Linked DNA regions of Homo sapiens: regions 2 and 3 are each linked to region 1. Evidence: fine-mapped expression QTL. A gene starts in region 1. Each other region holds a variant in brackets. All regions are shown on one strand. Distances are between the middles of the regions.

Region 1 (4,239 bases):
TGTCTCTGCTGAATAAATGGCACAAGGGTTGCTATGGTTTGAATGTTCCCTCAGAAACTCGTGTTGAAACTTAACTGTCAATGTAATGGCATTGGGATGTGAGGTCTTTAAGAGGTGATTAGGCCATGAGAGCTCAGTCCTCCGAGTGGATTAATGCTGTTATCTCCGGAGTGGGTTAGTTATTGTGAGAGTGGTTTCCTGAGAGGCTGAGTTCAGTCCCCTTTTTCTCTCTGTCTAGGAGGCTTGCCTGCTGTCTTGTCTTCTGCCATGGAATGACGCTTGTCAGATGCCACTACGATGCTCTTGGACTTCTCATCTTCAGAAAGCTAGGAAGGTGAACAAATTTGTTCTTTTTTATTATTATTATTTGAGACAGAGTTTCTCTCTGTCGCCCAGGCTGAAATGCAGTGGCGTGATCTTGGCTCACTGCAACTTTCGTCTCCTGGGTTCAAGCAATTCTCCCACCTCAGCCTCCTGAGTAGCTGGGACTACAGGCTCATACCACCATGCAGGGCTAATTTCTGTATTTTTGTTAGAGACAGGGTTTTGCTATGTTGGCCAGGCTGGTCTGAAACTCCTGACCTCAAGTGATCTACGTGCCTCGGCCTCCCAAAGTGCTAGGATTACAGGCATGAGCCACTGCACCTGCCAACTTTTGTTCTTTATAAATTAGCTAGCCTGTAGTATTCTGTTATAGTAGAAGAAAATGGACTAAGACACAATGTTGTGGCTACTGTCAGCTCTGCTCATTCTGGATCCCTCAAGTGTGTGGCTCATGTCACACATGGGACCAGGGTCCTGGTGTTTTATTGTTCCATCCAGGGCTCTATTCTATATATAATCTATCTATCTTTCTTTCTTTCTTTTTCTTTCTTTCTTTCATCTTTCTTTCTTTTTTTTTTAGATGGAGTCTCTCTCTGTTGCCAGGCTGGAGTGCAATGGTGTGATCTTGGCTCATTGCTTTGCAACCTCCACCTCCTGGGTTCAAGTGATTCTCCTGCCTTGGCCTCCCAAGTAGCTGGGATTACAGGCACGTGCCACCATGCCTGGCTATATAATACTTCATCAGATATGGTGGTACAGAAAAGATAAGAAGTTGTGCTCTTACAACAAAAGTTTGAAATATCAGATGATCCAGTAGAGTTCTAAAAGATAGTAAAGATTAGAGGCTGTGGGTATCAAAGATGGGTATCTCTGGGGAAAGAGAAGGAAAGAAATTATATTTTCAGATAGCTATGTCTTAGAGAAGAGTATCTTCTGATGTGCAAGTTGGATTAGAGAGAATGTATAGCTAGTGGAGGGACCAGATGAGAAGCTATTTCAATGGTCCAGGACTATTCTAAAGGTATTTAATATTAACTGGGCAGTTACTATGTTCCAGGCACTGTATCAAGCACTTTACTTACATTAACTCATTTATTTCCTGTGGCAACCCTTTGAGAAAGAATTGTCATGAGTACTCTATTTTACAGATGAGGAGACTGAGGAGGAGAGTGATTTGGCAACATGCCCAAGGTCAGATGATTAATAAATGATGGAGATGAGATTTGAGTTTGTGTGACTTCAGAATCTATGCTGTTGACCATGACCCATATACTGAACTAGGTTAACAGTGTATAACCAGGTGGAGCTTCCCTATAGGAAGTTAGAAAGTAGGATCTGGAGCCCAGGAGAGATATTGGGATATTGGGTTAGAGGAAGAGGTGTGAAGTCATCCGCATGGAGATAACGGTTGAGAAAGACATGGGGAGTGATCACCACAGCTCCTTAAGTAGAGGGTGTTTTATGATTCAAAAGTAGGCAGCCATAGAGAAGGGAAGCTCCTTAGATCGATGAAGTAATCCCAGATAGGAAGAAGAGTGAAAGAGGCAGGGAACAGAGTTTTCTCTGTTGGAGAGGTTTCGTAAACTGGGACTGACTTTCATGAAATTCCGAGTCATGAAATCTCAGGGGGTGACTCAAACATTACGTTCACATTAAATGAAGGCCAACAGATTTTCCTGTTTGTGCTTGGTCCATTCTCAGAAACGTCTCTTGCCACCCTTTCTCTTCTGCTAAGTAAGGCTTAAAATTAGGAAGCATTCTTTAAAAGGCAAAAGAGGAAATAGATGAGTGAGAACACAAAGGAAACTTGGACAAGTAGAAAGTGGATGACCCAGGCTCCGTTACATATACTTGGATTCCAGCTGGGACCTAGATTTGCTGAGGACGGAAGCCAAGGAGACAGGAACATGTGGCTGCTCCCAGCTCTACTCCTTCTCTGCCTCTCAGGTGAGTGGGGCTGTGGCTTTGGGGACTTGGTTTTGCAGGGGGCAGGACAGTAGGTAGAAGAGCTGTCCTGGGTTCAAACCAGAGGTGAAGTGTCCACAGAAAAGGGAAAGATACATCCGTTCATTCACCTGTGCATCCTTCTATACATTCAATCATTCATCCACGGATCCTACAAACACTTACTGAGCACCAGATATGTGCCAGGACTGTTCTGGGTGCTGTAATTAAGAGTAACTTCTGAACTGAGGGAGTCAACTAACTACAATACAATGTGGAAATTACTGTTGTAGAGACTCATTCATGTGGTGATGAGAGTATGCAACAGGAACCCCTCACTTTGCTCTTGGAAGGGTGGGAGATGTCACTGAGGCTTCATTGGAAGTCCATCCTGCAGGATGAATGAGTTGGCTGAGTGGGAAAGGAATAGCTTATGTGCAAGTGTGAGGACATTAAAGACCATGGAGAGTTCAAGAATTAACAATAGTTCTGTTTTGACGAAGCTTAGTGTAAAGGGGTTGGAATGGTTTGTGAGAAATAATTAATGGGCTGGGCGTGGTGGCTCACGCCTGTAATCCCATCACTTTGGGAGGCCAAGGTGGGTGGATCACCTGAGGTCAGGAGTTTGAGACCAGCCTGGCCAACATGGTGAAACCCTGTCTCTACTAAAAATACAAAAATTAGCTGGGCGTGGTGATGCATGCCTGTAGTCCCAGCTACTAGGGAGGCTGAGGCAGGAGGATCGCTTGAACTTGGGAGGCGGAGGTTGCAGTGAGCCGAGATTGCACCACTGCAGCAGTCTGGCCTGGGTGATAGAGTTGAGATCCTGTCTGAAAAAAAAAAATGCCATCCTCAACATCTACCTTAAATCCTTCCCGGAACAAGGTGTGGTGTAAACAAGTAAATGAAACTGTCCTGCAAAGGTTGGACTTCAGAAGAGAAACTCTTATTAATAGACATTCAAAATACAAAACTGCAGGAAAACACATTTGTCTCTGGGGAAATAAATTTAGGCTAAAAATTAGAGGACATTCTTCATGTTTGCAGAATGAATTTTATGGTTGAGTTCCCTCACAAAACATAGAAATTGCCCAATGTAATGACAAGATTCTTTCTAGAAGGGTGAGTGAAAATGACAGCGATTTAAAGGAAGAAGACCAGGTAGGTGACATGGACCCAAACTCGTGGGCTCAAGCAATCCTCCTCTCTTGACCTCCCAAAGCACTGGGATTACAGGCATGAGCCACTGCACTCAACCAATGTTTGCTCATTTTGTATTTGAATTTGCTTCCTTTTTCTTTGCCCTTTCCATCTCTCTTTCCACCCCTATCTCATTCCCCATCCTCAGACTCGCAATGTGACCTGCGCAGGTCCCTCTGAAAATCTTAACTGGGAAAGAGAGATGGAAAGGGCAATTCTAGCAGGGAGGGGAAATGACAAAGAGGAAGGAAGCAAATTCAAATACAAAATAAGCAAACGTTGGTTGAGTGAGGTGGCTCACACCTGTAATCCCAGTGCTTTGGGAGGTCAAAGCAGGAGGAATGCTTCAGCCCAGGAGTTTGAGATCAGCCTGGGCAACATAGCAAGACCCCATTTCTACAAAAAAAGAAAAGTAAAAAATTTAAAAAGAGCAAAACTAGAATTCTATTTATTACACATTTTTATAACCTATAAACACTTCCAAATAGATGATAGAATTTAACCCTCTGAGCAGTTTTGTGACCCAGGCAGGGCAAATAGCATTGACTCCACTTTATAAATAAGATGATGAAGGGAGATCTGATGACATAAGAACTAAGTAGACAAGCTGGAAATGAAGTCCAGATCTGTGTCCTCCACAGAGCTCTTTCCATTGGCCATGGAGGTGTCAAGAATAAGGCTAACCTAGTAATAGTGACAAAATAGCTGACCTCTCTGCCACATCATCTGGTATTTCCATTCTGAACTGATTGCTGTCCAATATTTAGTAGC
Region 2 (4,239 bases), 46 kb after region 1:
CATTTCCTGTCACCGTGTTCCCACAGGTCCCCGCTCAAGAGCACCCACTTCCTGTTCCTGTTCCTCCTGGAGCTGCCTCTGCTCCTGAGCATGCTGGGGACCGTCCTCTGGGTAAACAGACCACAAAGAAGGTCTTGAAGGAGGAGGAGTCAGCCCGATGATGAGAGTCCCAATGCCCATTGACGTCCTGTCCAGGGCGAAAGGCCCTCCCACAGAAGAAAAAACATTTTCTTTTCTCTTCTTTTTTTCTTTCTAGAGATAGAGTCTTGCTCTGTCACCCAGGCTGGAATGCAATGGTGTAATCTCTGCTCACTGCAACTTTCCCCTCCCAGGCTCAAGCGATCCTCCTGCCTCAACCTCCAGAGTAGCTGGGGCTACAGGCACATGCCACCACCCCCAGCTAATTTTTAAATTTTTTTGTAGAGATGGGCTTCCACCACGTTGCCCAGGCTGGTCTCGAACTCTTGACCTCAAGAGATCCTCCCGCTTCGCCTCCCAAAGTGGTGGGATTACAGGTGTGAGCCACCGCACCTGGCAGAAAAACAACATTTCTATGGGGAATTGACTGTGGTTCTAGAGGCAGTGCTGGCCCCAGCTTCAGGGAACAGCCTCCTAGTCCCCTATCTCCTGCAGCCGTGCCACCTGGGGCTATTCCCTTCTCTGCACAGTCCCTGGGGCCTGACAGAGCCCTTCTTCCTTCTGAGGTCTCCAATGCAGTAGAAAACATGAGAAGAATGTGTTTCCCCCGAGAGGCACCTATGCCGTAGTGGACATTCGTGATCTCAGGTCTGTGAGCCACATGCAATGTTAACGGACCTGTCTTTGCATTCCGTGGGGTTCAAGTCTCCAGTCAATAATGGGTTTCAAAATCCTAAACCCATGAAAACAGAAAAACGGAACCAAACTCTGGTAATGGGCCAACTTAAGGGAAGATGAGTACAGAAGAGAGCAGAGGTTTCCGGGCTGCCGTGCCAGCTGCTCTCCTGCCACTTGTGGGGAAGGGAAGTCAGGAGATTCCTGGATGAGTACGATTGAAGATGATGGGAAAACACAGCCTCCTTTCGTCACTGTAAGACTTTTCTATTAGTGTTGATTGTTACATTTTCTTACCTCTTTTAAGAGTATTGCAGTTGGCTGCTACTCTCAATTTGGGGTATATGGGGAGATCACCCATACATTTTGGGGACTGTGACATAATCCATAAACTGGATGCCAGAGCTAGAACTGTGAGCTGGGGATGGCTGGGTCCTCAGTACCGCCTGCCTGGGTCCCCAGGGTGGTGCTCAGTCTTGGACTCTAATGACTGAGCCCCCTGCCCAGTGGGATCATCTGGTGGTTAAGACAGAGGCTAAATAACAGAAATTCCCTTCTGGGAACATGAACCAGGATCACCCAACTGCCCTCTGTCAGGTCAATCTCTGTACCCAGGTGAGACCCTTATTCACTCCCCACCATCATTCATTCCAAAATGCTGGGCGCAGTGGCTCACTCCTGTAATCCCAGAACTTTGGGAGGCCGAGGTGGGTAGATCACTTGAGGCCAGGACTTTGAGACCATCCTGGCCAACA[T/G]GGTGAAACCCCATCTCTACTAAAAGTACAAAACTTAGCTGGGTATGGTGGCGCACACCTATAATCCCAGCTACTTGGGAGGCTGAGACATGAGAATCTCTTGAGCCTGGGAGGTGGAGGTTGCAGTAAGTCCAGATTGCACCACTGCACTCCAGCCTGGGTGATTGAGGGAGACTCTGTCACAAAAAATACATAAATAAAAATAAAAAATAAGCGAAAACATTTACTAAGCATCCACTAAGTATCAGGCACTGTTCAAGTACAACTATCACCGAAATAAAGAAAAAGACCTGGGTAAGTGCCGTGAAGGCAGTCTACAGGCTCAAAGATAAAGGATCACTCAGCTAGAAAATGATGAAATCATGGTTATTATCCAGACTCCCCCACCCCCAGCCTCACCCTTCATGAGCTCTGCCGCCCCTCTCTGGGCTGACCCATGTCCTGTCTGCTGCCCAGGCTCTGACCAGCGCTGCTCCCAGCCCCCACCCAGTGTGGACACCCCACCAACTCATAACACTCTCTGAGCTCCCACGTTCTCATCTTGTTTTTAACAACATTATTGAATCTTTCTATTGACTCTCTGCAGCAAAAGATGAGGACTTCTGTATCTTCCTCTTTTCCCACCATCCTCTTCCCCGTACTAATATTGTCAGTATGGTGGTTTTTGTATTGATGATATTCATTGTTGGTTTTTTTGTTTGCTTGTTTTTTTTTTTTTTGAGACGGAGCCTCGTTCTGTCACCCAGGCGGGAGTGCAGTGGCGCGATCTTGGCTCACTGCAACCTCTGCATCCTGGCTTCAAGCAATTCTCCTGCTTCAGCTTCCCGAGTAGCTGGGAATACAGGCACATGCCACCACGCCCAGTTAATTTTTGTATTTTTAGCAGAGACGGGGTTTCAACATATTGATCAGGCTGGTCTCAAACTCCTGACCTCAGGTGATCCACCCGCCCCGCCTCTGGTAACTGTTTTTAAAAGTGCAATCTAGCCACAGTGAATAGGGACAAGAGTCAGACTGGGGAGCTCTTGTGCCTGTTCAAGAGGGAAGGCCCTGTGGTAATCAGGGAGAAAGAGGGGGGTGGGAGGGCAATGGAGAAAAGTGGACAGATCTGAGGGTCTTGGGTTAACACAATGGCTGGGGCACGAGCAAAAGATGAGCCAAGGATGTTGCCCAGGTGACTGGAGTTTGGTCTGAGAAAAAGGGGACCATGGGTGTAATTTACTGTGATGAGAAGAGGATCAGGCTGGGGAGTTTGCAGGAGGTCAAATCAAGAGTTTCCTTTTGGGGGCCGGGCGCGGTGGCTCACGCCTGTAATCCCAGCACTTTGGGAGGCCGAGGCGGGCGGGTCACGAGGTCAGGAGATCAAGACCATCCTGGCTAACACGGTGAAACCCCGTCTCTACTAAAAATACAAAAAATTAGCAGGACGTGGTGGCGGGCGCCTGTAGTCCCAGCTACTTGGGAGGCTGAGGCAGGAGAATGGCGTGAACCCGGGAGGCAGAGCTTGCAGTGAGCCAAGATGGCGCCACTGCACTCTAGCCTGACTCCGTCTCAAAAACCAACAAACAAACAAAAAAACAGAGATGTAATCCTTGCCCTTAGAGAATCACAGTTTGGCAGATACACGTGTTCTACCTCCACTCAAGGTGATTTTGCCCGCCAGGATGAAGGCACAAGCAGCAAGCTGCCTAGATTACTTCAAACTCCCTTCCCAGAGCACCAGGAGAGAAAGCATCTGCTTTATCCCAGCCTCAAGTTCCTGGTTTCTGGTGTCTCCTTCTAAGCAACAAGGTCTAAGTGGCAAGGTCTAAGCAGCTTGGCAAGACAATCGGGACATTTAGCCTCATGACTTCTCAGCTTCAGACTCCAATCACAGCCGCCGGGGAGCCATAGGTCACCAAAACCAGCAGCTCAACGTGACTGTGCTTTACTTGTCTTATTCTTCCCCTTCACGACCTCAATCTTTGTCTTTCCAATTCCTCCCCAGATCTACTAGCAAGAGGCAGTTAACCAGATCAACATCCTCATTCTTATGGTTGAAAGAATGCAAATCGATTCTCATTCTGCCATTTTCCTTTCTTATTTTGTCGAATATCTCAAAGTTTCTCTTTCCTGTCAAGACTAGCTAATTTGCACAATTGCGTCTAAATTTACTGATTTAATTCTTTCTATAAGCTAACTTCTCTGTTCTTGCTACCCATATAAGAGATTCTTTCTCTAGTCAATACTCAATAATCAATAACATTCATAGACATGTAGTGGGAATATATTTGAATAAACACTGTGGTATTGATGGATAAAGGGTCTAATGTAGCAGAAACTAATTACAAAAATGATAGCAAACAAATAAAGCAAAATCGAATATCCATGACAAATCCAAAAGCAATTTCCTTGGAAAGATGTTGACAAGTCTAATGAAATGAAAGATATATGATGTTGATCTCTGTAACTGAATTAACTTGGACATCTTCCCAACAAGATCACTATTTGAGTAGAATTTCTTTTCTTTTTCTTTTTCTTTTTCTTTTTTTTTTTTCTTTGAGACAGAGTCTCAATCTGTCGCCCAGGCTGGAGTGTAGCGGCATGATCTCGGCTCATTGCAACCTCCAACTCCCGGGTTCAAGCGGTTCTCCTGCCTCAGCCTCCCGAGTAGCTGGGATTACAGATGTGC
Region 3 (4,239 bases), 27 kb after region 1:
GTCATTTCCAGTGCCTATTGGTTGTTTCATAGAGATACCCACTTTGTTAACAGCTCAGATGTGCTCAAAATTAAATTCCGTGTCCTCTTCACTCTAAGATTGGTCTATTACTGTGCCTGGTCCATGGCCCTGGGGCTTCCCGACTCCCTGCTGTGTTCCCTCCTTAACCCCCTGTCAGTTTAGCCTTCCTAAGACAAAGCCCATCATATCTTCACCTGCAAAGGGCTTTGCAGGGGTGGGGGATTAGAGGCAGAGCAGCAGAAAGCTTTGCCAGTGGGAGCAGAGGAGGGCGTGGTGGGTCAGTTCTTGGGGAGGAAGTGGAGGAGGCCCCTGAGCAATATCTGTTTATGTTTGTTTATTTATTTATTTTTGAGACAGAGTCTTGCTCTATCACCCAGGCTGGAGTGCAGTGGTGTGATCTTGGCTCACTGTAACTTCCGCCTCCTGGGTTCAAGCAATTCTCCTGCCTCAGCCTCCCGAGTAGCTGGGACTACAGGCATGTGCCACCACACCAGACTAATTTTTGTATGTTTAGTAGAGACGGGGTTTTGCCATGTTGGCCAGGCTGGTCTTGAACTCCTGGACTCAAGTGATCTGCCTGCCTTGGCCTCCCAAAGTGCTGGGATTACAGGTGTGATCCGGGCCTTCTGTTTATGTTTGAAGCTGCACCTTCTCTTGGGATTTTGGAGTGTCTTGGTGAGCCCTGGTGCTGCTGCCTAGAGCCAAGAACGCATGGGAGGGGGCAGGACTTCAGGGACCATAGACAGACTTTCTTTCTTCCTTCTTTCCTTCCTTCCTTCCTTCCTTCCTTCCTTCCTTCCTTCCTTCCTTCCTTCCTTCCCAGTTTTATTAAGGTATAATTGGGATAAAATAAACTGCACATATTTAAAGTGCACAATTTGAAACACTTTTCTTGTTGTTTTTATGATTTTTTCAAATGTATTATTTATGGGCATTCAGCTAGTTTCAAGTTCAGGGCCATGATGCATAGTGTGCTGTGAACATTTTAGACCATGCCTTTGGCGGGCTTCTGGTACCCTCCTTAGCAGCTTTTGAAGGGATCCCCATTCCCTCTATCTGGAGAAAAAATTGTGCCGTAGATCAGGCTGATATGGTTTGGCTGTGTCCCCACCCAAATCTCATTTGAATTGTAGCTCCCATAATCCCCACCAGGAGGGACCCAGTGGGAGGTAATTGAATAATGGGTGCGGGGTTTTCCATACTGTTCTTGCAATAGTGAATAAGCCTCATGAGTTCTGATGGTTTTATAAAGGGGAGTTCCCCTGCACAAGCTCTCTTGCCTGCTGCCATTTAAGACGTGACTTTGCTCCTCATTTGCCTTCTGCCATGATTGTGAGGCCTCTCCAGCCATGTGGAACTGTGAGTCCATTAAACCTCTTTCATTTATAAATTACCCAGCCTCGGGTATGTCTCTTTTGGCAACATAAGAACGGACTAATACACAGGCCAAGACCTAAGTTTAAGAGAAGTGAAATTTCAGTGAAAACTCAATCCTTAGCCTCAACAAGTCAGGCTCCTGTAGGGAAAAGTAGGAACCTGAAGATGGGACATTTGACAATTCATTTGAGCCCTCGAGCCTCCCACTGCAGAGCGGCCTGATGCTTGTTAGAAGGTAACAGCTCCCCTGTTGAAGTTGATGCTGAGGTCTCCAATGAAGCAGATGCCTCACCAGACATTGCTGCCCCCTAAGGATCTACTTGAGGAATCTGCCCTCATTTCTCTTCCTGACCGATAACCAACGTTGAGTGTCAGCCTGGCCCACCTAGGGACACGCTGGGCTGCTAAGGGAAAAGGAGAACTAATATACGCTGGCATGAACCAGTTAGAAGAGTGTGTGTGAGAGTGGATCCCAGGGCAGTGGACTATAGTGCTGAGCCAGGAAGGGTTTTTCAACATAGAGGTACTCATCCATGCAATGTAGGAGGACTCACCACTTGCAAAGCTGGGAGACTGGTCCTAGTACACTGCTGGGATGGCCCTGAGAAGCTTAGAAGCAACAAAACCCCACATTCAATGATGTAAAGATGTCATGGAAGGGTGGAAGAAGGGATCAAAAGGCTCAAGGAAACACAGAGCATCTTCAAGGCAGTGAACCTACTCTATAGGATGCTCTCATCATCCATTTGTCCAAACCCATAGAATATGCAACACTAAGATTGAACCCTAATGCAAACATGGACTTCAAATGGTCATGGTGTGTCAATATAGATTCCCCAATTGTAACAGATGTCCCACTCTGGTGGGGGATGTTGATAATGGGGGAGGCTGTGCCTGTGTGAGGGTAGGAGGTACATGGGAAATCTCTGTACTTCCTGCTCAATTTTGCTGTGAGCCTAAAACTGCTATAAAAAAACAAGGTTGTTTTTAAAAAGACTCACATGAAATTATTTGATTGTGTTTT[T/C]AGGTAAAATATGCTAGTTTCACTAAATTAGTATTTAATGAGTGTTATCCTTGGGATGCCCTGGAGGATACTCCAATACCAGGGAAATAAGAACTATGTTGGTGATGGGGCATTAGCATTATGGAGAAGCTCAGCAGTGGCTGTCTCTGTAGGCCAGGCTCACGGGAGGAGATGCCATTACATAACTGAGCTCCATAGGAGCAATGGGGCTGAGAGAATTCCAGAAGGGAAGAGGGCAGGTGGAGTCACTGGGCAGTCTGAGACAAGCTGAGCACTTGGACCAGGCAGCGAGTCCTGAGTAGAACCAGAGGCAAAATCAAGATCCTAGAGATGAGAGAGGCATCCCAGTGGTTCTTGCCCTGATTTTTAGAAATGATAGAAGTGGATACACTTAGCAACCAGTGCATATGAATACTGACTCTCTGGTCTGTGTGGTAAAAGTGATCAGACTGGGGAAGGCCAAGGGGAAGCCGCTGAGGCTGTCCCTCTGCTGTGGCCAAGATAGTAAATCCCAAACAATATCACATTCTGCCAGGAACACAGAGATCAGTGCCACCCCCCAAGACAAAGAAAACAAGGCATGGTCCCACTAGATCTGCCTTTAATTTACCAAGGTCAATGGGCTAGGGAAAACTAAACCAAGAGCCTGGGCATGGTGGCTCACACCTGTAATCCCAGCACTTTGCAAGGCTGAGGCAGGAGGATCACTTGAGCCCAGGAGATTGAGGCTAGCCTAGGCAACAGAGCAAGATCCTTTCTTTACCGAAAAGTGTTTTAAAAAATTAGCCAGTGCAATGTTGCACAACTGTAGTGTCAGCTACTCGGCTGAGGCAAGAGGATCACTGAAGCTCAGGAGTTGGAGGCTGCAGTGAGCTAGCTATGATTGTGCCACTGCACTCCAGCTTGGGCAACAGAGTGAGACCCTGTCTCCAAAACAAAACAAAACAAAACAAAACAAAACAAAACAAAACAAAACAAAACAACAACAAACCCACCACCATATTAAAGGAATAGCCAAATTTCCAGCTTCTGTGCCAACAGTGACAGGTTTACTAGAATAGATGAGCATAACCTGGTGTGTTGTGTGTGACTGTTGATCTGGCAAAAGCATCCTTTCCGCCACCATCAGGAAGGAGGAACAGAGGCAGGCGCATTCGCTTGGCATGGACAACAGTATACTTTCACAGTCTTGTTCCAGGACTGTGTTAATTTTCTTCTCCTTGTAGTATTGTTCTAAGAAACCTGAATCGTCCAGCCATTGCCCAGAACATAAAGGTAGTCCCCTGTGTTTATGACATCATGCTAATTGCACCTGATAACAAGAAGAGGCTAGCAACTGGATGTGCTCCAGAGGCTGGGAGATAAACCCTACACTGGTTTAGGGGCCTGCCGTGTCAAAAGATTAGGGGTATGGTGGTCTGGGGCATATTGGGTGTACCCTCAGAGTAAAGGGCAGATAAAATAAATTGCATTTTGCAACTCCTACTTCTAATTGACCCACCTGATAAAACTCAGGGGAGGCTTTGAACTCAGAGCCAGCAGGTGTGATGAAGAGTGTGGGTCAGAAGTGGGAATGGAGACTGGGGACCCAATTGGAGCTTTGTTCATGGAGCAGTTCCACAAACATGTTTTTGTTTTGTTTTGTTTTGTTTTTGAGATGGAGTCTCACTCTGTCACCCCGGCTGAAGTGCAATGGTGTGATCTCGGCTCACTGCAACATCCGCCTCCCAGGTTCAAGTGATTCTCCTGCCTCAGCCTCCCAAGTAGCTGGAATTACAGGCGTGCGCTGCCATGCTGGGCTAATTTTTGTATTTTTT

Alleles and levels. Positions count from the first base shown, and alleles are read on the strand shown. Sizes are in standard deviations (SD) of each study's normalised expression. Not every link is listed here.
With allele T in place of G in region 2, the expression in whole blood of the gene that starts at base 2,115 in region 1 is lower (moderate effect, 0.50 SD a copy in TwinsUK).

What was found. PIP is the estimated chance that this variant, and not a neighbour inherited with it, causes the effect.
Region 2: its variant is the best candidate, but not a certain one, in a credible set for the expression of CD300E in whole blood (TwinsUK, PIP 0.53).
Region 3: its variant is the best candidate, but not a certain one, in a credible set for the expression of CD300E in whole blood (INTERVAL, PIP 0.52).

Annotation. Positions count from the first base shown.
Region 1 is chr17:74,621,614-74,625,852 of GRCh38, reverse strand. It overlaps CD300E (CD300e molecule), which reads left to right and starts at 2,115. Exons shown (of 4, transcript NM_181449.3): 1 at 2,115-2,271. The coding sequence starts at 2,232. LOC101928343 (a long non-coding RNA gene) reads right to left here. Exons shown (of 4, transcript NR_158152.1): 4 at 1-326.
Region 2 is chr17:74,575,901-74,580,139 of GRCh38, reverse strand. It overlaps CD300LD (CD300 molecule like family member d), which reads left to right. Exons shown (of 4, transcript NM_001115152.2): 4 at 27-775. The coding sequence ends at 138. Among named protein-coding and RNA genes, the nearest start is that of CD300LD-AS1, 6.7 kb to the left of the region's middle. The variant T/G (reference allele first, on the strand shown) is at 1,569.
Region 3 is chr17:74,594,560-74,598,798 of GRCh38, reverse strand. No RefSeq gene overlaps it. Among named protein-coding and RNA genes, the nearest start is that of CD300LD, 4.4 kb to the right of the region's middle. The variant T/C (reference allele first, on the strand shown) is at 2,423.